Homo sapiens: one gene and its partners. The protein of the gene in region 6 purifies or fractionates together with the protein of the main gene of each other region. This does not show direct contact. Each region holds a gene or a part of one and is shown on either strand. Other genes may lie near its edges. The genes, in order: NT5DC2, PKP1, EIF1AX, VSIG8, MAPK13, TFG and HEPHL1.

Region 1 (3,485 bases), about 48 Mb from region 6:
GGCCTGGGGTGCAGGTAAAGGGCATGACTTCCAGTCTGTGGCTGGGCCACGGGCCGGGCAACCCCCATCCCTCCTCCGTAAAGGCCCACCTGCTCAAGTGGACCCATGCCAGCAAGGGGGTGTTCTCACCCCAAGCACATTGGGCAGTGGGCAAGGGCCAGGTTGGCCTCCTGCTTCAGTCCCCTCATTGGGGTGGGGCCTCTATTCCCCTTCCCTGGCCCTGCAACCCCCACCATGCCCATACTTGCGCCGGTCAGTGAAGAAGCTGGGCTTGTCTGCCTGGACAATGACCACATCGAAGAGCTGGCGCCAATCGGGACCCACCATGTGCCGCATCCCCTTGTCTCTGTGTGGAGGAGTTTCAGGTGGCAAGTAGTCTGAGGGCGGCTCCGTGCCTGCCCTCCCCACCCAGAGCCCTGGCCCTGCTGTCCCTCCATCCACAGGGGCTGGACTCACACGAAGCTGAAAGGACTGTTGGTGATGAGGAACAGCTGTTTCCCATGGGCCACCAGGCGGCTCAGGACAGCAAACGTCTCATCCCCTCTCAGGATGTACTTCTCTAATGGGGCAGATGAGTCTGTGAGGGTCAGTCCTGCCACCTGCTCAGGCCGGCCACGGCAGGGCTTCTGTCCACACTTACCCATGTCCTGCTCGATCCACTGGTACATGAGGCCCTTCACATGCACGTCTCGGATGGCGTCCTGGGGGCAGTGGAGGACAATGAGGGTACAGCAGGGCCCAGGTGGGGCTGTCCCACTGTGGCTGGACTTAGTCTTTCCTGCCATCCGAGGGCAGGCCCAGCATCCTCACCGTCACGTCCTTGTAGAGATGTGCTTGGTCAAACTCCAGGCTGTGGCCCAGAAAGTAGTCCACCACACAGGACAGCAGAGCCATCTCCGGTAGCGAGAAGATGTCCATGAACTGCTTAATGGAGGGACCCTGGGGAGGGGGCCATTGTCTCAGACACCCTTTGGGACCCCAACCCCTTCAGTGCTGGAGACGAGGGCCCCAAATCTGCCTTGGGACATGGGCACATGTCCATGGGGCAGGCTGGCTGCTGGGGTATGGAGTACCTTGCCATAGAAGCCACTCATCTGGTATAGTGGGATGTGCTGGGTACCCCCATACAGCTCAATCACCTCCTCGTCTGGCACAGGCTGGAGGCCCCTGAGCAGGCCCAAGATACCATCAGTCCAAGGTAGTCCTGAGCCAGAACAGCAGTGTAGGGTGGGGCGGGGGTGGGGTTGGGGCAGAGCCGACTGACCTGTAGGCTGTCCCCAGCTGCACGTAGTGGAAGGCGTCAATCTTCATCAGAAGGCTCTGGGGGCGCCAGGGAGGCAGGACGGATGGTGAGGAGGCAGTTTCACCGTGGCCCCAAGCCAGCCTCTTTCAGCCCATGCCAGAACCCCAGCTGGATGGGACGGAGGGGTAATGACCATACCAAGAGGAGGCCAAGGAGGGAGCCCCTATACAGGTCCAGCCACTCACCTTCTGAATGTCATAGTGGAGGCCACGGATGGCAAAGCTGGGGTTGTAGTCATACTTCCGAATCCCTTCTGGGTACTGCCGGGGGAAAGGGGCCAGGCCTAAGCCAATAGCCCTGCCAGACCTGCTGGCTGGGTGGCCACCCCAGGGGGTCAATCCAGCCACCTGCCCAGGGCAGCTGCCAGGCAAGAGGGCCAGGGGAGCCCCACGACTCAGCCCTGAGCTTAGGCCAAGGTGGGTCTGGCCAGCCTCCAAGCCCTGGGTTTGTTGGTGGCAAGGACCCCCGTCTCACCTTGTAGTGCTCGATCAGGATGTCACGGGCGGTACTGAAGATCTCGGGGTGCAGTGCGTCTGCATACTGGGCCAGGGTGTAGTCGTAGTCAAAGCCGTAGACCTCAACGTCACGCAGGCTGATCTCGTTGTTGGCGTAGATGGCTGCTGGGTTCAGGAGACTGCAGACCTCGGGGGGCAGGAGGTCTAGAGGAAGGAGATGCAGGGAGGCAGTGATGGGGATGATGATCCCTGCAGCAGCTATGGCTCCTGAGCACTCTGTGGGGACCTAGCCCTGTGAGCCTCAGAAACGCCCCACAATGGCACCTCTTATTCCAGTGCTGGAGATGGTCAAACAGGCCCAGAGAGAAGTCACTTGCCCAGGGTCACGCAGTTAGGGTAAGGCAGAGCCCCTGGCTGGAGCTCCTCCTCATGGTTACACCTGCCTACATTACACTATCTCCTATAGCCCACCAGGTATACTGAGCCCGTGACTACTCCAGGCCCTCACCACTAAGCCCCATCAGACACAAGGCCATGCTAGAACCCTGGCAGCAGTCACTCAACTCCTCACCGCCTAGCCCCAGAACAGCTGCTTTTGGGATGCTCTACAAAGCAAAGCCTCCCACTTGCTCAAAACCCGTGCAGGAACACCACTGTCTGGCCCCCCACAATTCAGCGCCTCCTCTGCTCCTCTCAGCTGCCCTGCCCTGCCCCCTGGCCTCATCTCTCAGCCTCCCTGGGATTATGTGTGAGGATACCATGTGGGCACTGAGGACTCCAACCCAGAGGGGCTGGCTCTGTATGGCCAGACTAGGGGGTTGAGGCCATGGATGCTGACTTTTCTACCTTGCCCAGAGCTGGGACTGGGGCTCAGGAACATTAGTGGGAGGGGGAGCCCCTCTGCCGATCGGGCTGCCAGCTCTGTGCACTTCCCACAGCCCAGGGAGAGTGAGGCCCCTCTAATCAGATTTCAGCTGCCCGCAAGCCCATATAATGACATTTGCTGGCTCTAGCCAGGGAACATTGCTAATTACGACAGTCAGGACGTGATGTCAGGTTCTGGGCCATTATCCAGGTTGCTCCTTCTGGGGATGTGGTCGTGGCCACCCCAAGTCCCTGGCTGCTCCCAGGAGGCTGCAGTTGGCTTTGAGGCCCACAGCAGGGTGCTGAGCAGAGCACTGTGTGGCATGGGCTCTGGGGTCCCAAGGAGGCAGATGGGGCTGAGAGGCCCCATGTTACCTGCCCTGGTTTCCCTATGTGTACAATGGAGAAAGTGGAAGGGAAAGGAAAGGGAAGGAGATGTGCTAGGAAGGCCACATGCAATGAGGTCAGCCAGACAAGACCAGGCCCTCCCTCTCATGGCTATGACTTCAGGAATGTCACCTCACCTCTTGGGCCTGTTTCCTAGTTTCTAAAAGGGTACAAAAAATTGTACCAAGTGGGGCATGGTGGCACACACCTACAGTCCCTGCTACTCAGGAGGCTGAGGCGAGAGGATTGCTTGAAACCCAGTAGTTCAAGACTGGTCTAAGCCATATAGCGATACCCTGTCTCTGTGAAAACATTTTTAAAAAGAAAAAAAAAATTGTACCAACCTACAGAATTACTAAGACTGTCATATGGAAGGTGCTGCTCTGTGCAGCAATCTCACTCTGCACCTGCACATATGCAGGATTAAATGGGTGATATGTTTCCTGAGCCTATGAGCATCCTGTCCCCAATTTCCC
Region 2 (3,500 bases), on a different chromosome or scaffold from region 6:
AGATTTCCACTCATCCTAAAGAAGGAGCTGCCTCCAGTTTCAAAGGTTTTGAGGCGAGAAAGCTTGAGTTGCACCGATGACACAAGAAAGAATCAGCCTGTCGTTGTCTAAGGCACCAAAGGGAAGCAGTGTGCCAGGACACTGGTGACCTGAGCGGTAGATTTTCTGAGATGGTTTTACACCCTAAAACGCGGATGTAAAATCAGACGAGCTATGTGGACAGAGCAGGTTGTGTTGCTTGTATACCTGGGAAAGTGGCAGATGCTCTGAGGCACTTGCTCCTTGACCTTGGGGTTCTGTGGGTGGGCAGATGCTTCCTGAGGATGGCACACAGGTTGGGCACACTGTCAGTGTCACCGAGAAGCCACCACATCCCTGCTCATGCTGCATGCACCCATATGGGGAGAAGAGGGGCAAAGCAGATGCTTAGCTGGAGGGTAGGAGTGATTCTGTGGGGTGAGCTGGGAACTAGCCCCTCCCCCATTCCCCAGGAACTAAGAATCCTCCTCAAGGAGGTGGCCTTGGGTATTTGAGAGCTGCAGCAGCCCTCCTCTCTTCCTGGTTTACCCCACTCACCAGGGACCTCTTTGAGTGGGAGGAGAGCCTGACCCCATTCTAAGCCTCTAAGCACCAGGCATCAGAGCACGTTCACCACAAGGGTTGGGCAAGGGAGAAGAGGTCATTGACGCAAAGAGCCAGCTCAAGCCAGTCAGGCCCAGACCCAGCTGGGGCAATGCCCTGAACTCAAGGTCCCAGGGAAAGAAAGACATGGTTCGCACTTCAGAGAGTGTCCAAAGTACATGGTGGTGGAGACTTGTACGGGCGTGAGATGGAGATGGGAGTAGGCGTCATTCATCAGGAAAGGCTTCCTAGAAGTGCATTCTAGAGACATCGGGGACCAAGTGGAAGAGTGAGCTAGCACCATTACACTCATTAGAAGCCCATGCTCTTGCTATTGAACTTGACTTTTAGAGGGCATTACTTACCAGTCAGACACCCCAGGGTCAAGAGAGGGAAAATCACTTTTGTTGTGGGAGCAGTGCTCTTACAGACAGAGCACACCTGCCCCCAGTACTCCTTGGTTATCTGGCACACTGCGAGCTGTGATTTCAGGTGTGTGACAACTATGGACTTTTCCCCTCTCTCACCACCTCCGCCCCAAATACTGTCACCTTCTGCCAGATTAGCAGTGCAGGCAGGTGTGATGTTACCCTCATTCTCACCAGAGCCAAGCAGACCCCAACTACAGATAGGTCTTAGGAGATGCCTTCAGGAACTGCCTGGAAGGGCCTGCAGGCCACAAGTGAGTGACAGTCACACCTGCCTTTACCAGAGTTCATGCTGGACATGGGGACTGGCTTTGGGAACTGCAGGGCATTCTGGCCTCTCCCTCCATGTGTCTGTGTGTCCACTGCCACCTCCATGGCAGAGAGGCCTCTACCTTCATACAGAGAAGAGTGTATGAGAGGGAGGCAGGCAGGTGCAGGGTGTGGCGGGAGGAGATGGTTAGTCTGATGACCCATGGGGAGAGCAGCATCATGCTGACAGGTTCTCTCCCAGAAGACGGGCAAGAAGGCCCTGGTGCAAGCCCCCCGGGGCTGCTTCTCATAGCAGGAGGCCTCCCCGGTGCTCCATAAAGTTCTGTCTGTCACCACCCCAAATTTTCCACCCAGAAGCAGCTGACTGACCCACACCTGACCTTTGGTGAGAAATACCTGCTCACAGGGCCAGATCCAAATGAACTCTATCCTATCAAACCTTGGAAGAATGATCAAAGTGGGCTGGGTGGAAGGGAGGCAGACAAGACCTGGTGGTTGGCCACCTAGGGTCCTGACTATGAGTGTGCCTGGCTGCAGCCCCCTTCCTTGGGAGCACCAGTCCTGAGTGACTGAGCCCATGAGATTGCCTCCAGCCTCTTCCTGATAAGGACAGTCTTGCCAGAGGAGCGGTTGCTGGAGAAAGGTGGAGGAAGAGCTGTGTGCACTCTACAGGGAGCTTGGAGGAAGCCAGAGGTTCAATGGGCCACATGGCAGAGTCCCAGGATGTTGCTCATAGGCGGATGGCCCTTCTGGAGTCAGGGCTAGGCCTGGAGTATAGGGGAGGCCTCTCAGAGGACCCTGAGGCAGGTGGCAAACGAGGCGGTAGTGTGGCCTTTGATGTCTGCCCTTCTTCCTTGTAAGCTGAGCTGTGTCTCTGGAGAGGAGGAGTCGGCTCCTCTGAACGCAGTCAGGCACGTGTCACTATCATCACACCACCACAGGGCAGTGGAACTGTACGGGGCCTATGGGAGGTAAGAGGCCAACCCTCTCTTTTGACAGAAGAGGACACTGAGGCTCAGAGAGAGCAAGTGACTTGCCCAGGTGCCAGAACCAGGACAAATATCAACACCGCTAGGCCCCCAGGGCAAGCTGTGTCTGCCACAGCTTGAGACCCCTAATGTCCATGATGGAAGGGTGCAGAGAGTTGGGCAGCACTCTCTGCTGTGGGCTATGGGTGGTGACCTGGCGCTGGACAGGGGAGGTGGCACGAGGTGGGGATCCCTGCCTCATTCCAAAGCTGCCCCTTGGCTATTCCCTCTACTCCCAGCTCAGATATTCCAGCCCTGCTCCCCCAGGCAATGGCCGGGGAGCCTAAGTGGGTGTGGCAGATGGGGAGGAGCTACCTTGGCTGGGTGAGATCACTGCCCAACTCTCTTCCCCACAGACAGGGTTTCCGATGGGGGAGTCTGACCATCGCTTTAGAGAAAAGGAGTGCATATCCCTCTTAGGAGGCTCTCACTGGATCCCACTCACCTTCATCCCCCAAGGCCATCACTTAACAAGAGTGTGGGCCAGGCCACGGAGCCATGGCTTGCTCTTCGTGGAGCTCCCAGTATAGCTGAGGGAATGGGACGCAGGGCAGAATGAGACTTGGGCTACCAAGAGCAGGACAGTATGTGTTTAGAGGCAGGAGAGATTGCCTTGTGCAGAACTGATCAGAAAGGGCTTCCTGGAGTGGGTGAGGTCTTGAGCTTGGCTTCAAAAGATGAGCAAGATTAGAAGGTAGTGGCCAAGGAGGGAAGGCAGGTTTGGCATGGAGGGAGATGTGAGTAAAGTGGTGAGCCTGTCACCATTGGCCATATTTCAAGGACAGCAGGACAGTGAACAGACCAGCTTGTGCAGAGTTGATGCTATCCCTTAGGGTGTCCCTGCTGGCCAGTGAAAGGGAGATGAGGGGGGTGGCCCCACTAGGAGCCCCAAATCCAGTTCTGTTTTCTGTGATGCAAAGCCACTTTGCCACTAATAACCCTAATGACACTCTGTCCTCCTGCGGAGCCTGTCATTTGTGGGTCTCCAAGCACTCCGAAAACATTAATTAATCCTCACTGGGCCTTTGAGGTTGATCGCCGCTCCCCCTTCACCAGCCAGAGCATGTTAGAGGTGAAAGAATGGGAGGAAGTTTGGTCACTGGTAGGGGCTGGGCTGAGATTTGAATCCAGAGTCCTGTCCTGAATCAATCTC
Region 3 (3,500 bases), on a different chromosome or scaffold from region 6:
TTGACATGAATGTACAAATATACATTCTACGTGTTCCTTCTATTGTACGAATCAAAGACTGCACGCAAAAGAAATGGGAAATACAGAATACAGAAGACATGCACCTTCTATCTTACATAGTACTGGATATCAAGTGAAAAGAGCAGACACTGATCTAAGTACATTACATGTATAAACATCTAAATTATCAATCCTCCCAACAATTCTGCATGACAGGTACTGTTTTCATCATCCCCATCTTAGAGGTGAAGAACCTGAAGCTGAGACAAGCAGGAGAATGTGCCAGTGGTCACCTGCAGGTAGAGGGCCAAGTAAGGGTGGGGGCAAAGGCCCTTTGACCCCAGGATCCATGCTCTCCCCTCTCCAGTACACTGCCTCACAAGTACCTAGCAACTTGCAGGGCTAGGAGGGGGGAATAAGAGAGGACAAAGTCCAATACATTCTCCAAATTGCTCAGTTCATTCTATACCTGAGAGTCTTGTGTCTTTTCACATTTTGCTCTTTTCTGAATAGGAAGAAAAAAAGCAAAGATAAAAAGGATGGTAGTTTAGGGTAAACCAAAAACACAAAGCAGTGTGCAAAAGTTCATGGGAGTCCAAAGAGTATAAATAAAACTTACCCTTACGAAGTAGAATAAAGATAAGCATTTCATACCAATACAAATCATTTTCATCTTTATGACAGTCAGGTAACATCAAAAAAACCTTGCTTTCATTCTGATACTTTAGCTGTCAATCCAGTCAATACCGGTTGTTGTTAAGTCTGTATACAAGTAAAGTATAAATCTAGCTATTTTACTCAAAACATGCTTTTACCTATTTGATTACTCAGAGTTACTCTGAAATCAATAATGACAGCAGTTTATACCTATGGAAGATGTTACTGAACATCATAATCTAATATTTACATTAGATGAGATTAAGTTAAATTACAAGTCACAAAGAGTTTGTAAGCAAACATTTATAGCCATGATTCCACAGATGTGGTGAGTAAACCAACAGCCATTCCTAAATAAAATACAAGAATTTCCATCATGCATAGTTTACAGGCTTGGTAAGAAGCGGTCTCTTTAGGGGCCAGATGCTTAAGAAATATTCAACAAACAATGAAATCTTGGCTTTTTTTTTTTTTTACACAAATGTTTGGTTATTTAGCCACACTAGTGATAAAACATATTCATATTCTAACTGCAAGTGGAATAAACATTGCAACAAAAATGCAACCCAATCAAAATCATTAGTAATAACTATTACTCCCTCTTAGCAGTAAGAACCATTATTCTTGGATTTCAAACATTTTATTTTCTGTGCATAGCTTATAGCACTGTATTATAGGAATCAGAGTGTATAAGCAAAAAAATGAAAAATAAAACTTCTTGGAGACCATTTCCATTATTTATGATTAAATCAATGAAACTATACAATTTCCACATTAAATACAAATTAGTAGAAGAATTCCTCCAAGTAGTATTGCATATAAGCTACAACTTTACCCCAACTATTTTAATCACTATGATTCGAGATTTCCTAGGATTTAACAGCCCAAGATTGGGCTGTTACTACCTCAGCAAGAACAATCACCAGTAAATACATGAACTGGGGTTATAGCTGAATTTTTAGAAACTCTCCAGACAAACCACGTGTTAGAGGAGGTAAGTAGAAAAACTAATGTTTGAGCTGTGCTATTCCTACCAGGAACTATATCAAATATGCAAAGTTCAAACATTCTTAGTAAAATAATATGAAAGGATCTATATATACTGTAAATTTAGCAAAAACACTTTTATGTACAGAAGCCTAAATATCTTAGGAGGTTTAGAATACCAATGAAGAGAATTGTTAATTCTTCAAGGCTGGTTTCTTATGAGGATTAAAAACCAGCCCTTAGTCTCAGATGCATTCCACCTAGATGTGTTCACGAACTCCATAGAATAAGAAATATAAACCATGAATACGTACTCTTAATTTCCATTCTTCAACTTAATGTTCTATAGTACTTCAGATTTTTAAATCCAGAGTTTGGTGTACACTTAGGAAATTATAGTAAGAGTAGATTAGAGAAGATTTGCTTGTTTTCCTTTTGAAGCCATGTGAAGGTTTATTACCCTGTGTATTTTCATCACTGAAAAGTTCCCCGGTGACTAATAAAATAAAAGTGTCACAAGCTACATGATGGATCTCTTCTTTTAATGTTGCATAGAGTTTCAGTTTGGCTAGTGAGGGCTAACTAGCTCAGCCCTAGTTTCATTTTATTAGAGTTGACCACTAAAAACTAAATAAGGAAGTTACCAGTAAAGCTAATTCCCAATACAAGCAAAAAACAAAAACAAAAAACAAAAACAAAACCATTCACATAATAAAATATATCCTTAACACAAAATAAGGGTATAACATATTCTGCAGCATGACATTTTATTTTATTTCTCAGCTGTAGCTTTTTCATTCAGAAACTGGAGACCATCTTTTCACTGAGTTGTTATTCCTTCCTCTTCCCTTAGCTTAGGGATATGTTGAAAAAGGCTTTTCAACAAGTATTTTATTTTTTACAAGTTGCTATGAAATTAAAATTTATATATATATCTTAAGTGTTTATAAAGCACTCAAAATTGTAGCTTACATGTATATGACTTCTGAAAATAAAAATCACACTTCTAACATAATCTTTCTGCTCTGCAAAAATATTCTACATACATGCATATGATCAAAACAATCTTTTCATGTTTGGGGTATTTCTTACACATAGTAAAAGAAAAGTCAACAATTGTATCAGTACTTCCCCTGTTAAGATAACTGAGTGCCACCTAGTGTTCAATTTCTGCAACTACTAAGCTTACAAATTCAATACTGCTATTAAAACCCAGGTTCTGAAAACGGCATTTTGGAAATCTTTTTTTTTTTTTTTATGTTTACGGTGGCAAAATACGACTATGAAAAGAACATGATATCAAAATCAGTATAAAAATAGCCACAGGCTACTTAAATATGACAAACAGACTTATTTTTTTTCTTCAACTGCAGACTTCTGCCTCCCTCAAATTGTATCAAAATCTCAAGGGAATATCTAGGTAACTGGAATATACACAATGACTCTATACAATCAAGAGGCCAGGGCTTAATCAGATTCCGTGAGGACAAGGCAAATGATTTCTTCAAAACACCCATTTTCTTACTGGAAGTGGTAGGAAAAGCAGCAATGCATGGTTTTTTTTTTTTTTTGTAATTAGTAGACATGGTCTTCTACCCATAAGCTCCATTACATTAAAAGAACAAAGTGGGCTTAACATCTCACTTAAGATAATTCAGCATTATTATCAGTTTTAAAAAAACCAAAAATATCTTAGAAACAAATCAGTCTGCTTTAACAAATTGCATTCATGCTAATGAAATTTTAATCTTCTTTGTCATGATCAAAATCCAAATTGTAGGACAATCTTCAGAAAAGATGGAATGTAAAATGTTGAGTTCAATTTAGATCTGGAAGGGAAAAGAACATCAGATGAA
Region 4 (4,300 bases), on a different chromosome or scaffold from region 6:
GTGAGGAGCCAGGATCCCAGGACCCAGGAGCTCAGGACTGAGCTCTTGTCCCTCCCTACCCTGAAGCCCCAGGCAGGCCTATCCCCAACCGGTTGGACCTAGAGAGGGATAAGACCGGGGGGTGTAGCCAGGGCCCCACCCTGGACACTCTGCCCTCCACCTCCCAGTCTCCAGCAACCCTGCCTCTGCAGGCCCCTCACCAGGCCTCACACACTCTCCGTCTGCGTTCTTTTTTGAGTCAACATGTCTTCTGGAGTCACAGCCCCAGGTCTCAGCAATCATTCTGTTCTATCATGTGGCTCAGGACCATGTTTACACATAGAGATCTCACACATGCACACACACAATTACACCATCACAGGCAAACAAATCGGCACGTGGCCCACTCTTACAAGGCTTCAAAATGCAGATACATACCTATATGGCCCCACCTTCCTACAAACACAGACACTATATAGATTCATTCAGACACAGACACAATCTGCACACAAACACAGAACATATTAATTCAAAAGACACACCCACCGTGTGTTCATATAGTCCCTGTATGTGTTCATTCAAGACCAGACATATCTATGGAAGCCCTGCCAGGAAGGCTTAGCCTGGCTCCAGAGAGGCCAGCAAGGGCCCTTTCAACACCCTCAACAGCTCAGGGATCCCTGAACATCCCCCCTAGGAACACTGGCTGGGCCATCAGCTCTGTCATAACCCAGCTAGACTCCAAGGTGACCCAGAGCAGGCAGGCTGACTGCTGGGGCTCTAACGGGACCTAGTGATGCCTCTTCCAGCTCCAGGCCAAGAGAACAACAGCTCATTCCTGAGATAAGGATCCTGCTGCCATCTGCCAGATCCTGAGGCTGCTCAAGGCAAGCCAGGGATGAGCCAGAACTCGGCTGAGAGCAGAGGCTCCACCCTGGAGAAGCACCGCTGGAAGCACCCACACAGGAAGGACTCTCTCCATGCCATAGGAGCCTGCCAGGCAGGATGGTAAGCATTCAGGGAGAGGGGCTTGGGAAGGAGCGACAGGCTGCAAGAAAAGCACCTCCACCCTGCACCAGGCTGAGAGATTCTTCAATTGTCCCAGACCAGGGAGCCTCACCCAGCTTTTCTATCTCCTTAGAAGTCTTCTCAACCTCCTCCCAAGGGTTCCAGCCTTTCCGCACCCCTCCCTCTCCTTGGGAAGTTGCTCCTAATGTCTCACCTTGATTCCTCTTGCTGTAGCACTAAGGAAGTACTACAGGGAATGTGAGAGGAGAGGCTGGAGAGAGGGAAGAAAGGCAAAGTGGAAGAGAGAGCTGGATGGGAGACTTGAGGAGAGACAGGAATGGAGGAATCACATGGGCTCTCCAAGGAAGAGGACAGTGGTGATTCTTTGCCCCCCAAAAGCACCAGAAACTGGCCATGCTTTACGGGGTGTCATCTCAATAGTGGTGCCTACTCTCTGCTTGCAAATTCTTTCTGAATCTTCAAGGTGCTTCCAGAACTCCTGATCTTCCCTCTGGAGGTAAGGGAGGGGAGAAAAGGCGGCTCCAGCTGAGGGTATTGATGCGTTAATGCAGCCAGTGCTGAGTTGTCCTCACACACCCATTGACACACCACACAGGGGGAAGTCCGGGTCCCCACAGCACAGCTGGAGCCTCCCGAGTGGACTCTGCCAGCCCTGCTCTCATCAGACAGAGAAGGGCTGCAGCTATCCTGCCGGAAATGTCATCATTCCCATGCAGGTGCACGCACCCACACACTCACATACACATTCACGCTCACACAAAGGCTGAAAATGTCACCCCGCCTTCCCAAATTCCTCCTTCATGCCCCTTCATCCCAAATCCAGACTGCAAGAGGGACTCGGAGCCCTTTCCAGTGATGTTGGCATAGAATGCCCCTTGGTGGAACTTGCCCCAACCTGGGCAGGAAGCCACAATGTCCAAACTTGAGCCCTGCCCTGTGGACCTGTCCTGGTGGGGTGAGAAGTCTCTGGAGTTGCCATCCCCACCACCCTCAGGCCTCATCCTAGAGTGGGGCACTGCCCTGTCATAGCACAGGGGGCCCAAGGCTGAGGTCTCAGGCCTGAGCTGTCACTGGCCATGATGGAAGAAACCACTCAGACTTACACCAGACTTAGTCTCTTGCCCTTTCAAGGCAAGTGACTTCCCTGCCCCTTGGCCCTGGCCTTGGGAGAGAAGGAGTAGCGTTGGGAATAGCACACAGTCTGATGAAAATTGATCCTTCCCAAGCTCCTCCTGAGCCCTCACCCAATGCCCGTGCTTACCCCTCTCCTACCCCACCTCCAGCTCCTGCAGAGCAATCAATCCCTCTCCTCCTAGTCACGGCATGAGCTTGCAGGGCACCTGCACACATGTGTGAGCCCGACAGGGGACATATAAAGATCCACTCAAAGACCTCTGCACTACAGACACACACCCTGAACATCAGGCACAGGGTCTCCTGGGGAAAGGTCCCCTGGTAATACCCACACCCGGCTGCAGCAGGGCAAGGGTGGGCAGCACCCTGCCAGGCAACTCAGGCAGCCCCAGGCTCCACTGTGAGCCCTTGCTGCCCCTTTCCTTCCCACCTAGCCTCATGCTGGCTACCCTGCCCCCTGCCCAGCCCCGTACCTGGGCTCAGGCACACGAGTAGAAGGTGGAATGCTCCTCCAACTCTCATGTCTCTAGGCTCGGTGTTTCCTCCGTCTGGGCTGGGTATCCCGTGGGGTCGTAGTGGTGGGTGTGAGGGGGTAGGTGGAGGGAGGGGGAGCTGAGGGCCCAGACACTGCCTGGGGTGGCAGGAAGGTGCAATGAGTGCCCAGCTGGGGAGCAGCTGGAGTTATTTCTATGGGAGGGAGGGGGCCTGGTCCCCGCCTTGGGGAGGAGTCCCAGGAACCCTAATTAGCAGGGTGACAGGGTGGCCTACCTGGGCATTACCCAGCCCTCACCCAAGCTCTTCCCTGTCCTAAGAGTGGCACAGGACAGCCAGCGGGACTTGTAATTAGGCACCTGTTAAACTTCACTTCCTCCTGGCCACATCCTCAGGGTGACAACAGTCACCTCATTTACAGCTTCCAAGGGCTCCCCTCACCACTCATTTGCTGCCTCCTTCCCTGGGGGAAGTGGGGAAGAGGAAGGAGAAGCCAGGCTTGGGAGAAAGAGTGGCCAGGACCTGAAGAGTTAATCCTGATCCCAGGGCATAGGGTTCCCCAGGAGTGTCCAGCCCACCTTCCCCCAGGCTTCAGGCCTTTCAAAGGGACTCAGGCCTCCTGAGCTGAAAGAGGAGAGAAGGGGTGTGTGCAGGAACAGAGTCTCCTCCTGGCTGTCCCCTCTGGAACTGTCCTCCACACCCATACTCGACTCAAGGCCATCCCCAAGTGTAGGGGACCCCTGGGAGCAGGGGTGCTATGGGGGGTCCAGGGTGTGTGCTAGGAGTAAGGTGACTGATGGGCTAGTGAGGGAGTGTTGGAGAGAACAGCGCCAAGAGGACCAGGGAAGGGGGTGCCTGTGTAAGCGTGTGCACCCCTCAGCAATGTCTGTGGGAGGGAGGCAGGATGTCTGTGTCAGGGTGTCTCTGTGAGGATGGCTAAGCCCCTCTGAGTGAACTTCTTGAGGGATCGCTTGGTGTCCTGGCTTCTCTGCCCAGAAAGAGTAGCCAGGTCTTGAGGGTTAATGCAGTCCCAGTATTAACTGGGTCCTTGAGACCAAGGACCCTCATAACCTGGACTGGTCATCGGGCTGACTAAACCAGCACAGTTCTGGGTAAGTTCGTGCTGGGGTGGGGAGGGTCCTGGTAGGCATGGGGAGCAAGTGAAGGGCCACCCCTTGTTGGCTTGTCTAAGGGGGACAGAATGGGCATGTGCCTTGTTGGACTCCATGGTGGGAGTCAGGACATGAGTGACCCCATTCAATAGCTCAACTCCCTCAAAGGAGTCAGGGACTGCCCCCATCCCTACCATGGGGCACAGAAAGGGCAGAGGAGGAAGAGTGTTAGGGAGAGTTATGGGGCTCAGGGATGCTGCCAGGGCCCACCCCTCTGGGGAAAAATAAGTCAGAACATTAAGGAAACACAAGGAGTCCACGCGTCTCTGCATTCCAAGCCGTTGCACCTGAACTCCCAACAATAACAGGGCGCTCTGAGACCTACCAGATGTACACAATGAATATCTTTATTTCCTTATTTATTTTTAGGTTTATGGGATTGTCCTGCTCCCTTTGAAGAGCAGGGATCATTATCCCCATTTTACAGATGGGGAAACAGAGACCTGGAGAAACATGGGGATTCAGCCAATGCGGCTGGTGCCTAAGCTGGGATA
Region 5 (3,500 bases), on a different chromosome or scaffold from region 6:
AATCTGCATTTTAACAAGTCCCCTGGTGCACAAGGAAATTTGAGACCCACTGTGCCCGACAGCTTGTGCACATGGAAATTTGTTCTGCCAAAGTTTCTCAGATAAAAACAGAGAGGTTCTAGCCACTGTCAGGTCAAAGCTCTGGAGAGCTGTGCCATCTCCCAAAGGGAGCAGAACGGTTTGCCATCAAGCCAGGCAAGAGCCCATTTCTGCCTGTGCAGCTCGCAGTCTCCGAGCCTGCTGTTGTTTCATATCTTGATTGCTTATCACTCACCCAAAATAACCTGAATGCAATCGCACCAGCTGCAGCTCTCTCTGCAACTCCCTTAATTTAGCAGCCAAACACATTGGGTTCCTTCACAGAGCACAAGGCCTCAGCACGGGGCCCAGGAAGGGGCCCCTCCCTCCCAGCTGTCTGTAGTGAGTTGAATCATTTCCCCCTGGAATTCATGTCCACCTGGAACCTGAGAATGTGACTTTATTTGGAACTAGAGTATTTGCAGGTTTAATTAATAAGGATCAAGATAAGATCACACAGGATTAGGGTGGGCCCTAAATCCAATGACTGTTGTTAAAAGAGGAGAGAACAGAAGAGACAGAGACTGGAGTGATGCAGCAATAAGCTGGGGAATGCCACGGACTGCCCACTGCCGCCACAAGCTAAAAAGAGCCAAGGAAGGATTCTTCCCCAGAGCCTTCAAAGGGACCACAGCCCTGCCAACACCTCCATCCCAGATTTCCAGCCTCCAGAACTGTAAGGGAATCAAGTTCTGCTGTTTCAATCCACCAGGTTTGTGGTAATTCGTTAGAGCATCCCTAGGAAACCAACACAGCATCACTGCCATAGGCCCCCGGCCTGGCTCAGCGCCCACTCAGCCCCACTCTGGCGGGAAGGAAAGGGCCCCACCTGCAGGCGATTCTCCAGATGGGCAGTTTAACGTGGCCTGTTAGGATCAGAGCTAGTTTCTCCCAACCGACATCTTTGAATTCTGCATCTACTAGGCCCATTTCCCACATAAGGAGAAGGACCCTTCTGTCCTCTGCTTGAAAGGCTGTATTCCAAGAAGGGCTGAGTTTGGTAGTGACAAATACTGGTCCTTGGGCAGTGTCTGGCCGGCGGTGCCATGCAAGATGAGTCCCTACAGCTTCATGCCACTCCGGCGCCGTGAGTCCTTCCGGGCAATGGGGCTGAAGTTCACAATCTCCTTGTAGATGTGCTCTGAGAAAGGCAGCATGGTTTAAGGTGCGTAAAGAGGTGCTGTGGCGAGAAAGTCCACCCCCCTTCAGAGACAGCATGGAGAGCGAAGTCAGCTCAAGGAGAAAGAAGCACCCAGGAGACAATGCCCACCAAGAAGGAGGTGGCAGGTAGGGCTGGCAGAGGCCAGGCACAAAGATGGAGGAAGCAAGGAAGAGAGGCTGCAGGCGGAGGCGAGGAAGCCCGAGGCCCCAGCTCTTACGCTTCCATTCATCCACTGTGAGTTTCTCGTGTTCTAAGGAATCATCAAACGGCTGCTGGGCCTCCGTCTCTTCCTCAGGGTCCCGGAAGGGTTCAAAGAAGGGATGGGTGAGGGCCTGCGCGGCCGTCAGGCGCTTGTCCACGTCTAGCTCCAGCATCTTCTCCAGCAGGTCCGCAGCTGCAGGGGCAGAGCCAAGAGCCTCACACCAGGGGCTGGGAGAGCCCGCCCTCTGGGATACGCTGAGAGGCCCCTGGGGAGCGGGCTCTGAGACTCACCCTGGGGGCTGGCCCGTGGGAACAGCTGAGTGAAATCCTTCCTGGGGGTCTGTGGCAGGGACTGGATGTAGGATTTGGCCTGGAAGACAGAAAAGCATCAAACCCCTTAGGGCTCTGGCCTCAGCGTGTAGAGCAGGGATTTCAGAAAAGCCTCAGAGCAGGGCTGAAAGTTCAGGTCAGGGTCCACGGTGAGATTAAGACAAGAGTGCCTGCCAGGGTAGGAGGATGCTGTGGGAAGGTGCTGGTGAGCCTTCTTCCACAAAGGCCTGCAGCCCACTGGGCCCACGTCAGGCAAGCACACAGCCCAGGCCAGCCTAGGTCCCATTTACCACCCACCGCTTTGTCGTTCAGCTTCTGCACAAACTCCGTGCCAGGCACCCCGGTCACTTTCAGGATCTGGGTCAGCTGGTCCAGGTCTTGGTGGCAGGTTAAGGCTTAGCCTTGCTCTCCTGGTGGGTCTGAGACTGCCCTTCCTGCGACCCCACCATCACTTCACCCGGGCACCATGGCAACTGATCATCCAGGCTCCAGCCCTGCCTAACCACCTCCTGCTCTCAGGAGGAGGCTTATTCTTCAGGGCTCAGGGCTCTGGAGAGCTTTCCAACGTGCCAGGCTGAGGGGGGTCCCTACCCAACAAATGGATGTGGACTTCTCAGCCTTCATCCCAGTGACTCTTTTCTGTTTCCTCGTCTTCTCACCAAAGGCCTGCCCTGCACACACAGGTACTCAGTTAATGTGTGCCGTGCCAAAATGTATTTTCCACGTAGTGGTAGAATTTTTCATCATTTTGCTTATCTACATTTTTTTTTTTTTTTTTTTTTTGAGACAGGGTCTCACTCTGTCACTCAGGCTGGAGTGCAGTGGCACAGTCTTGGCTCACTGCAACCTCCACCTCCTGGGTTCAAGCGATTTTCCTGCCTCAGCCTCCCGAGTAGCTGGGATTACAGGCGTGAACCACACCCGGCTAATTTTTGTATTTTTTGGTAGAGATGGGGTTTGACCACGTTGGCCAGGCTGGTCTCGAACTCCTAATCTCAGGTGATCCGCCTGCCATGGCCTCCCAAAGTGCTGGGATTATAGGTGTGAGCCACCATGCCCACCCAACATTTTGTTTTTTTTTTTTTTTTTTTTGAGTTAGGGTCTCCCTCTGTCACCCAGGCTGGAGTACAGTGGCACAATCATAGCTCACTGCAGCCTCAACCTCCCAGGCTCAACCCTCCCACCTCAGCCTCTCAAGTAGCTGGGATTTTTCTTTTTCTTTTTTTTGAGACAGAGTCTTGCTCTGTCACCCAGGCTGGAGTGCAGTGGCGCGATCTCAGCTCACTGCAAGCTCCACCTCCTGGGTTCACGCCATTCTCCTGCCTCAGCCTCCTGAGTAGCTGGGACTACAGGCGCCTGCCACCACGCCTGGCTAATTTTTTGTATTTTTAGTAGATACGGGGTTTCCCCTTGTTAGCCAGGATGGTCTCGATCTCCTGACCTCATGATCTGCCCGCCTCAGCCTCCCAGAGTGCTGGGATTACAGACATGAGCCACTGCGCCAGGCCCATGTCTGGCTAATTTAAAAAACTTTTTTAGAGATGGGGTCTCCCTATGTTGCCACATCTGGTCTCAAACTCCTGGGCTCAAAGGATCCTTCCACCTCAGCCTCCCAAAGTGCTGGGATTACAGGCATGAACCACTGCGTCCAGCCTTATCTGCATTTACAAATTATTCTACAGGGAGTATGTATCACTCTCACATTAAGAAAAAAAAGACAGTTATTTAA
Region 6 (3,500 bases):
ACCTTTTATATTTCAGGTCAAAGAAGGTTGCCTATTCTGAGCCCTACCTCTCCAAACAAAAATTTCCAATTTTAGATCAAGAATCAATGAAAAAGTTAGACAATTTTTCCAGAAGAATTCATAGATGCTGACACAACATTTGCATATAATTTCAGGGGATTTAACCATCTGCAGAATATTAAGAAGTGTAGATGAGAATTTAACCAGTATAGCCAATACTGTTCAGAAATTAGCTACAGTGGCCCACATTCTACTCTAAGGAATGGATTTATGAGTTTTTTGCTTTAGGTGAAACTTTTTCCTCACCTCTTTCTTGCTACTGTTTATACTTTATTCTTTGTGTCTATATTTTTTATACATACTGTTAGCTTTTTACCTATGTTAATGTAAAAGGTGTTAAAATTGGTTTCTTCTCTGCATTTTGGAAATCATGCCATATGTTGTTTTCTTGTATGGCCATTTTCTAGTTATTGTGTCCTGTCTGACATATCTGATGATAAGATGATATAAGAATAATACAATCTGCATTATATTTTTAGAGATAGTTCTTATTTTTTTAGAAAACAAAAACAACAAGAAAACCATACATCAGAAACTGAAATCTAGTCCACAAAATGAAATTGCCAATCAGCTATCAGTGCTATTTAGAACCTGTGGCTTACCCTCACCAAGAAATGTGGCCACCTGTGGTCTTCAGCTCTCTATTACAGCGGTTCTTGGATGCTTGTTTTCCTTTAAGAGGCAAATGATGTGTAAACTACCTTAGATAGAAGATTGACCTGTTGCAGTATCTCCAGCAGCTAATGGAGCAAGTAGTAGGACGTATAGTATGTTTCCTGATGGTTTTAGTTTGTGATAAGTGAAAAGAGGCATAGGTAGTGAGATGTGAGGGGAAACAACTTGTAAGACTGACGTGGTATGCTCTTGGGATTAGAGGAAGGAAGTTGGTAGGGAAGATAGATAACTGGTAGACATGTTTTAAAGGAATACTTCTAGTAGTAGTTTTCTTTTTCCAAACATTTAGAAAATATTAGGGTAGCCTGGAATGGTATGTTAGGAATGAATGAGCTGCCAGCCAGTGTGTGCTGTGGGTACTTATATTCGGTTTAGCACTTAACATTTTTTTCAGAAGATACATTTTGTATTGATTACAGGGGTGATCTAAGAACTGATGTTCATTTACTTGCTTGGTAACAAAAGTGATAATCATTGTCCCTTAATTGAGTAAATGGTTAGCAACAGTCTTTTTGTTTACTTGTTCGTGTTTTTTGTTTGTTTCTTTTGATGTCTTTTGTATCTTGGACTTGGATTCCTATTTGTAAAATGTATGTTAAAATTCTTGAACTCTTTTTCTTTCACAAGACAGTAGTATAAATGCCTGTGGAATATCTTAGTATCCTGAGAAGAAAAGCATGATTTTAAATTTAACCTGCTCATAATATTTGACATTTTGTTTTTCTGTTGTTGTTTTAAACATTTTATTATAGAAAAGTTTAAGTATATAAGAAAGTAGACATTATAATGAATCCCAGAAACCCACATCCAGTTTCAACAGTTACCAACTTATAGTATCATATAATTACACTATACACATTTCCGCCCCTCCTGTTACCCAGAGTGGAGTACAATCTCAGCTCACTACAAACTTTGCCTCCTGGGTTCAAGTGATTCTCGTGACTCAGCCTCCTGAGTAGCTGGGATTACAGGCATGCATCACTGTGCCTAGCTAATTTTTGTATTTTTGGTAGAGATTGGGTTTTGCCAGGCTGGTCTCGAGCTCCTGACCTCAAGTGATCTACCCACCTCGGCCTCTCAAAGTGCTGGAATTACAGGCATGAGCTGTTGCACCCGGCTCCCCTCCTGTATTATTTTGATGCAGATCCCATATACATCATTTCATCTGTAAGCATTTTAATAAGTATTTTAATAAGTAATACATATTAAAATAGAAGGTAGCAAATTCAAAAATGTTTTTAATGTGCTATTTATGGAAGATTATGAATTAATTATGGTTGGCTTGATTTCCATGTAATTTAATAGTGGACCAGTAGACAGTAGAAATAAAATGTAAAATTTGAGATTATAACCTTAGTTCAGTTTCTTTTTATAAAATAAAGCCTTAGTTCCTATAATTATTATTTCCAGAGTGCCCAGTGGGTATCTGATACTAGGATATAGGTTATTGGGCTCCAAAAAAACCAAAAAAAGTAAAATGTTTCTCTTTATCAAGGAGCTTGTATTTTTTTCATCTAATGTTTCTTACAAAAGGAGGTAAATAATTTTTTTGGAAAGCTTTTGTTCATCTTCTGTTTCTTTTTGCCCTCTTCTCCCTGTTACTAGAAGGAAAAATATAAAAAAAATAAAGGAATTAAAATGATCTGTAATCCTATATTCCGACATGCTTAACATTCCAGACTATCATTATACACCTGCATTATTTCCCTTGTACTTTTAGGCCTTACTGAATATAGATAAAAAGGAAACAAGTTTTTGTTTATTCCTCTATTTTTACAGATACTGTGGATGGTAGGGAAGAAAAGTCTGCTTCTGATTCTTCTGGAAAACAGTCTACTCAGGTTATGGCAGCAAGTATGTCTGCTTTTGATCCTTTAAAAAACCAAGATGAAATCAATAAAAATGTTATGTCAGCGTTTGGCTTAACAGATGATCAGGTTTCAGGTAAGTTGGTTTCCAACTCCTTTACACCCTTCGTTTCCTTCATCTTTCCGTTCTTCCCTTTCCTTCTTTCTTTAATTGAAGAATAACTTGGATATGGTGAAGTGCACAAATCTTAAGGGTTCTGCTTAACAAATTTTTACATATGTGTACACTTATGTAAAAGACTAACTAGATTAAGATGTAGATGATTTCCAGCACTTCAGAAAGCTTTCTTATGTCCTCTCCCCAAGAGTAGCACCCTCCCCCTTAAAGAATAAGCACTGTTGGGTTCAAGTAAATTTTTGAAAGTAAAATTTAGAAAGTTTTTAAAAATCTGAACTATTTTATAATTTGATTAGTTGCAGTATTCGAATTATATTTGATTTGTCTTATCTCCTCATCTTAGAGAAATTGAAAATTAAATGTAGATTTTCTTGTTAAATTGCTTGAGTATACAGTGGGTTTTTATATAAATAAGTTTTTAACCTTAAAGCAGTACCTATATTGTTTTATTCTGTTTAACTTTTGGTTATAATTTCTTCATTATTTTTTCCTGCTTTTTCTCTTTTCGGATTCTAATAACACATACATTGGAGAGCTTGATACTGTCTCATGGGTCATTAAGGTTCATTTTTCTTCAGTCTTCTCTCTGTTCTTCAGGTTGGGTGATTTCTGTTGAACTCTTCAAGGTCGCTGTGATTTCTAATATGCTGTGGAACCTTTCTAGTGAATTGTTTAATTGTGCTTTCAGCTCTAGAATTTCCATTGGGTTTTTATAGTTTCTGTTTTTCTGTTGAGATTCTTTATTTTACATTCATTAAGTCTATATTTTCCTTTAATTG
Region 7 (3,177 bases), on a different chromosome or scaffold from region 6:
AAAGAAAACAAGTTCATTGTTTTATTAACAACAGAAGGGGATTCTTTTCATGACACTAGTCATTTCATTTCACCAGCGAGGACTTATCCCATCAGTATCTGCCAATCATTTCTGGATTCTTACTGTGCTACTTCATTCCCATGTACATGCTTTCCTGCCCCAGCTGTCTTTCCCACTTCTGCTCACCCACTGAGTCTATCTGGAGCATCATGGCCTCTGTGAAACTTTGGCTCATATCCTCCAACTGTTACCCATTCACTCCTACTGCTGCTATTAAGCCCTGTACTCTGCATTCTGCTACGGCACATAGCATACTTGATTATAGTTACATATTTACATATATGTCTCTCTTACTTGACTCTGAGCTTGTTGAGGGCTATATCTGGGTTTTTGTCATGCCTCCTGTTTTGGGGGTCTACAGGAAGCTCGGTGCCATCATCTGGCATCACTGACAGACAACCGTACCTATGTTACGAAGGACCGTGTAGGTTGTCTCCATGCCAGCATGGATGTGGTCAGACACATGACAGTGTAGCAGCCATGTCCCTGGGTGATCTGCAAACAGTTCAATGGTTTGGAATGTCCCAGGAAAGAGATCATACACATCTTCTCGGTAAGATTTATCTATCTGCAAAAACGTTTTAAAAAACAACAGCTAGTAGCCTTCTTTGCTCAGAACAGCAAGAACAGAAAGAAGAGCAAAAACAAATAAAACCCACAGTAAGCAAAAGGAAGGACATAAGAAAGAGCAGGAATCAAGAATAGAAGTACAATAGAGATAAGTCAAAGAAATCTAAAACTGATTCTTTGAACAGATCAATAAAATCAATAAATTCTGTAGTAGCCAGCTTCCATGATGGCCCACAATGATCCCCACCTCCTGGTATTCATAACCTTTGTGGTTCCTACCTACATTGTATAAGGGTTGGTATGCGAAATCAATAGCATGTGGAAGAAGTGCTGGCATTCCAATTCCAAGATTAGGTTATCATTACTTCTGTGTTAGATACTCTGTCACCCTCTTCTCTTGGATTACTCACTGGAGGAAGCCAGTTTTCATGTCTTATCCACATGATCAGGAGCTGAACCCTCTAGTTAACAACCATATCAGTAAGTTTGGAAGTGGATCCTCCAGCTCCAGTCAAACCTTTGAAAACTGCAGCTCCAGTCGACATCTTGATTGCCTCCTCATGAAAGATTCTGAATCAACCAACTAGTTAAACTAATCCCAAATTCCTGATCCAAGAATTACTCTAAGTTTAGAGTAATTTGTTATGCAGCAATAGATAACTAATACAAATCTCTGGACAGACTAACCAAGGGAAAAGGGAAAAGGACACATTAAAAATACTGAGAATGAAAGTGAGGACATCACTAAAATCTTACAAATATTAAAAAGGAAATACTGGACAAACACCTCTTATCCAAAAATTGTACAACTTAGATGGTATGAACAAATCCCTTAAAAGACACAAACTCCTGAAGATTACTCAAGAATACATTGATAACCTGGATAGCACTATATCTATTAAAGAAACTGTAATTGCTTCAAGATATTCCAACAAATTAAACTCCAGATGGCTTTATTGGCAAATTCTACCAAACATTTAATGGAGAAATAATACCAATTGTAAACAAACTGTTCTGGAAAATAGAAGAGGAAAGAACAGTTCCAACTCATTTTATGAGGCCAGCATTACTGTGATACCAAAACTAAACAAATGCTTTGTGAGGAAAAAAAGCTACAATCAATACTCCTCATGAACATAGATACCATCATCCATAACAAAATACTAGCAAATCAATTCCACAAAAAGGAATAATACATCATGACCAAGTAAGGTTTATCCTGGGAATGAAAAAGTGTTTAAAAACTCCACAATCAATAAATGTAATTCAGCAACAGATTAAAGAAGAAAAAGCATCTGATCATCTCAATAGATGCAGAAAAACCATTTGATAGAATTTAACATTTGTTGATGATCAAAACTCTGAGCAAATTTAGAAGGAAATTTCCTCAACCTCATAATGGGATCCACAAAAAAGCTGCAGCTAACTTTATATTCAAAGGTGAATGACTAAATGCTCCCCTTGTAAGATTAAGAACAAACTGAGGATGTCCACTTTCACCACTCATATTCAAAATTGCACTACAGGTCCTAGCCATTGCAGTAAGACAAAAGAAATAAAAGACATACAGATTGAAAATAAATGAAGCCATGTCTATTCACAGACAACATGATTGTCTGCATAGAAAATCCCCCTAAAATCTATAGGAAAACTATTGGAACTAAAGTGAGTTTAGCAAAGATGCAGGATGCAAGGTCAACATGCAAATATCAATTATATTTCTAAATATTGGCAATAAACAACTATAAATCAAAATAAAAACACTATCATTTACACTATTACCAAAGCCTTTTATATACTTAGTTATAAATAAATAAAACAAAGTATATGCAAGATCTCTATATTGAAAACTACAAAATGCTGATGAAAGAAATCAAAGAAGAGCTAAACGATAGATATACCATGTTCATGGATTGGAAGCCTCAATATTGTTATGTCAGTTCTGTCCAACCCATTGTATAGCTTCAGTGCAATACCAATCAAAATCCCAACAGGATTTTAAAAATCAAAATCAACAAATTATTTCTAAAATTTATCTGGGAAGGCAAACATCTAGAATAGCTAAAACAATCACCATCTGATTTTGAGACTTACTATAATACTAAAGTAATCAAAACATTGTGGCATTCAAGAAAGGGCAGAGTATAAACCAGTGTAACAGAAGAGACCGCCCAGACATAGACCCACATATATGTGGTCAATATGATTTTCACAAAAGTAAAGAGTCAATTCTGTGGGAAAAAAAGATGATCTTTTCAATGAGTGGTGATGGAACATTTGGACATATATATGAAAAAAAAATGAACCTTATTTCATATCTTGAACCACATATGAAAATTAAAATGTATCAGAGCCCTAAATCTAAAACTATACCACTTCTAAAAGAAAACAGAGACCTTTTTTGGGACCTTCAGTAAGGCCAAAATTTTTTATACATGACACCAAAAGTATGATCTATAAAAGAGAAAAAAGAAAAATTGTACTTCATTTTACTTCATCAAAAATTAAGAACTTCTATTTGAAAGCTGTTAAGAGAATGAAAAGATA

The links.
Region 1: the proteins of TFG (region 6) and NT5DC2 fractionate together in Homo sapiens (co-fractionation; one large-scale study listed by BioGRID). This does not show direct contact.
Region 2: the proteins of TFG (region 6) and PKP1 purify together in Homo sapiens (affinity purification with mass spectrometry; 2 studies listed by BioGRID and IntAct, with this or other methods). This does not show direct contact.
Region 3: the proteins of TFG (region 6) and EIF1AX purify together in Homo sapiens (affinity purification with mass spectrometry, with the first as the bait; one large-scale study listed by BioGRID). This does not show direct contact.
Region 4: the proteins of TFG (region 6) and VSIG8 purify together in Homo sapiens (affinity purification with mass spectrometry; 3 studies listed by BioGRID and IntAct, with this or other methods). This does not show direct contact.
Region 5: the proteins of TFG (region 6) and MAPK13 purify together in Homo sapiens (co-immunoprecipitation; one large-scale study listed by IntAct). This does not show direct contact.
Region 7: the proteins of TFG (region 6) and HEPHL1 purify together in Homo sapiens (affinity purification with mass spectrometry; 3 studies listed by BioGRID and IntAct, with this or other methods). This does not show direct contact.

Annotation. Positions count from the first base shown.
Region 1 is NC_000003.12:52,527,373-52,530,857, forward strand, and holds part of NT5DC2 (5'-nucleotidase domain-containing protein 2), read right to left. Parts: intron 1,963-3,485; coding exon 1,778-1,962; intron 1,564-1,777; coding exon 1,489-1,563; intron 1,321-1,488; coding exon 1,265-1,320; intron 1,168-1,264; coding exon 1,074-1,167; intron 940-1,073; coding exon 811-939; intron 702-810; coding exon 641-701; intron 560-640; coding exon 457-559; intron 347-456; coding exon 245-346; intron 4-244; coding exon 1-3. UniProt on the Homo sapiens protein: Promotes dephosphorylation of tyrosine 3-monooxygenase TH which decreases TH catalytic activity and leads to reduced synthesis of catecholamines including dopamine, noradrenaline and adrenaline.
Region 2 is NC_000001.11:201,290,006-201,293,505, forward strand, and holds part of PKP1 (plakophilin-1), read left to right. Parts: intron 1-3,500. UniProt on the Homo sapiens protein: A component of desmosome cell-cell junctions which are required for positive regulation of cellular adhesion.
Region 3 is NC_000023.11:20,124,839-20,128,338, forward strand, and holds part of EIF1AX (eukaryotic translation initiation factor 1A, X-chromosomal), read right to left. Parts: intron 3,474-3,500; coding exon 3,468-3,473; 3' UTR 1-3,467. UniProt on the Homo sapiens protein: Component of the 43S pre-initiation complex (43S PIC), which binds to the mRNA cap-proximal region, scans mRNA 5'-untranslated region, and locates the initiation codon. This protein enhances formation of the cap-proximal complex.
Region 4 is NC_000001.11:159,859,858-159,864,157, forward strand, and holds the start of VSIG8 (V-set and immunoglobulin domain-containing protein 8 precursor), read right to left. Parts: upstream 2,801-4,300; 5' UTR 2,665-2,800; coding exon 2,616-2,664; exon of another isoform or gene 789-2,615; intron 1-788.
Region 5 is NC_000006.12:36,137,013-36,140,512, reverse strand, and holds part of MAPK13 (mitogen-activated protein kinase 13), read right to left. Parts: intron 2,149-3,500; coding exon 2,069-2,148; intron 1,812-2,068; coding exon 1,733-1,811; intron 1,635-1,732; coding exon 1,458-1,634; intron 1,220-1,457; coding exon 1,140-1,219; 3' UTR 1-1,139. UniProt on the Homo sapiens protein: Serine/threonine kinase which acts as an essential component of the MAP kinase signal transduction pathway.
Region 6 is NC_000003.12:100,729,994-100,733,493, forward strand, and holds part of TFG (protein TFG), read left to right. Parts: intron 1-2,514; coding exon 2,515-2,679; intron 2,680-3,500. UniProt on the Homo sapiens protein: Plays a role in the normal dynamic function of the endoplasmic reticulum (ER) and its associated microtubules. Required for secretory cargo traffic from the endoplasmic reticulum to the Golgi apparatus.
Region 7 is NC_000011.10:94,108,354-94,111,530, reverse strand, and holds part of HEPHL1 (ferroxidase HEPHL1 precursor), read right to left. Parts: intron 629-3,177; coding exon 466-628; intron 1-465. UniProt on the Homo sapiens protein: Is a copper-binding glycoprotein with ferroxidase activity. It oxidizes Fe(2+) to Fe(3+) without releasing radical oxygen species. May be involved in the regulation of intracellular iron content.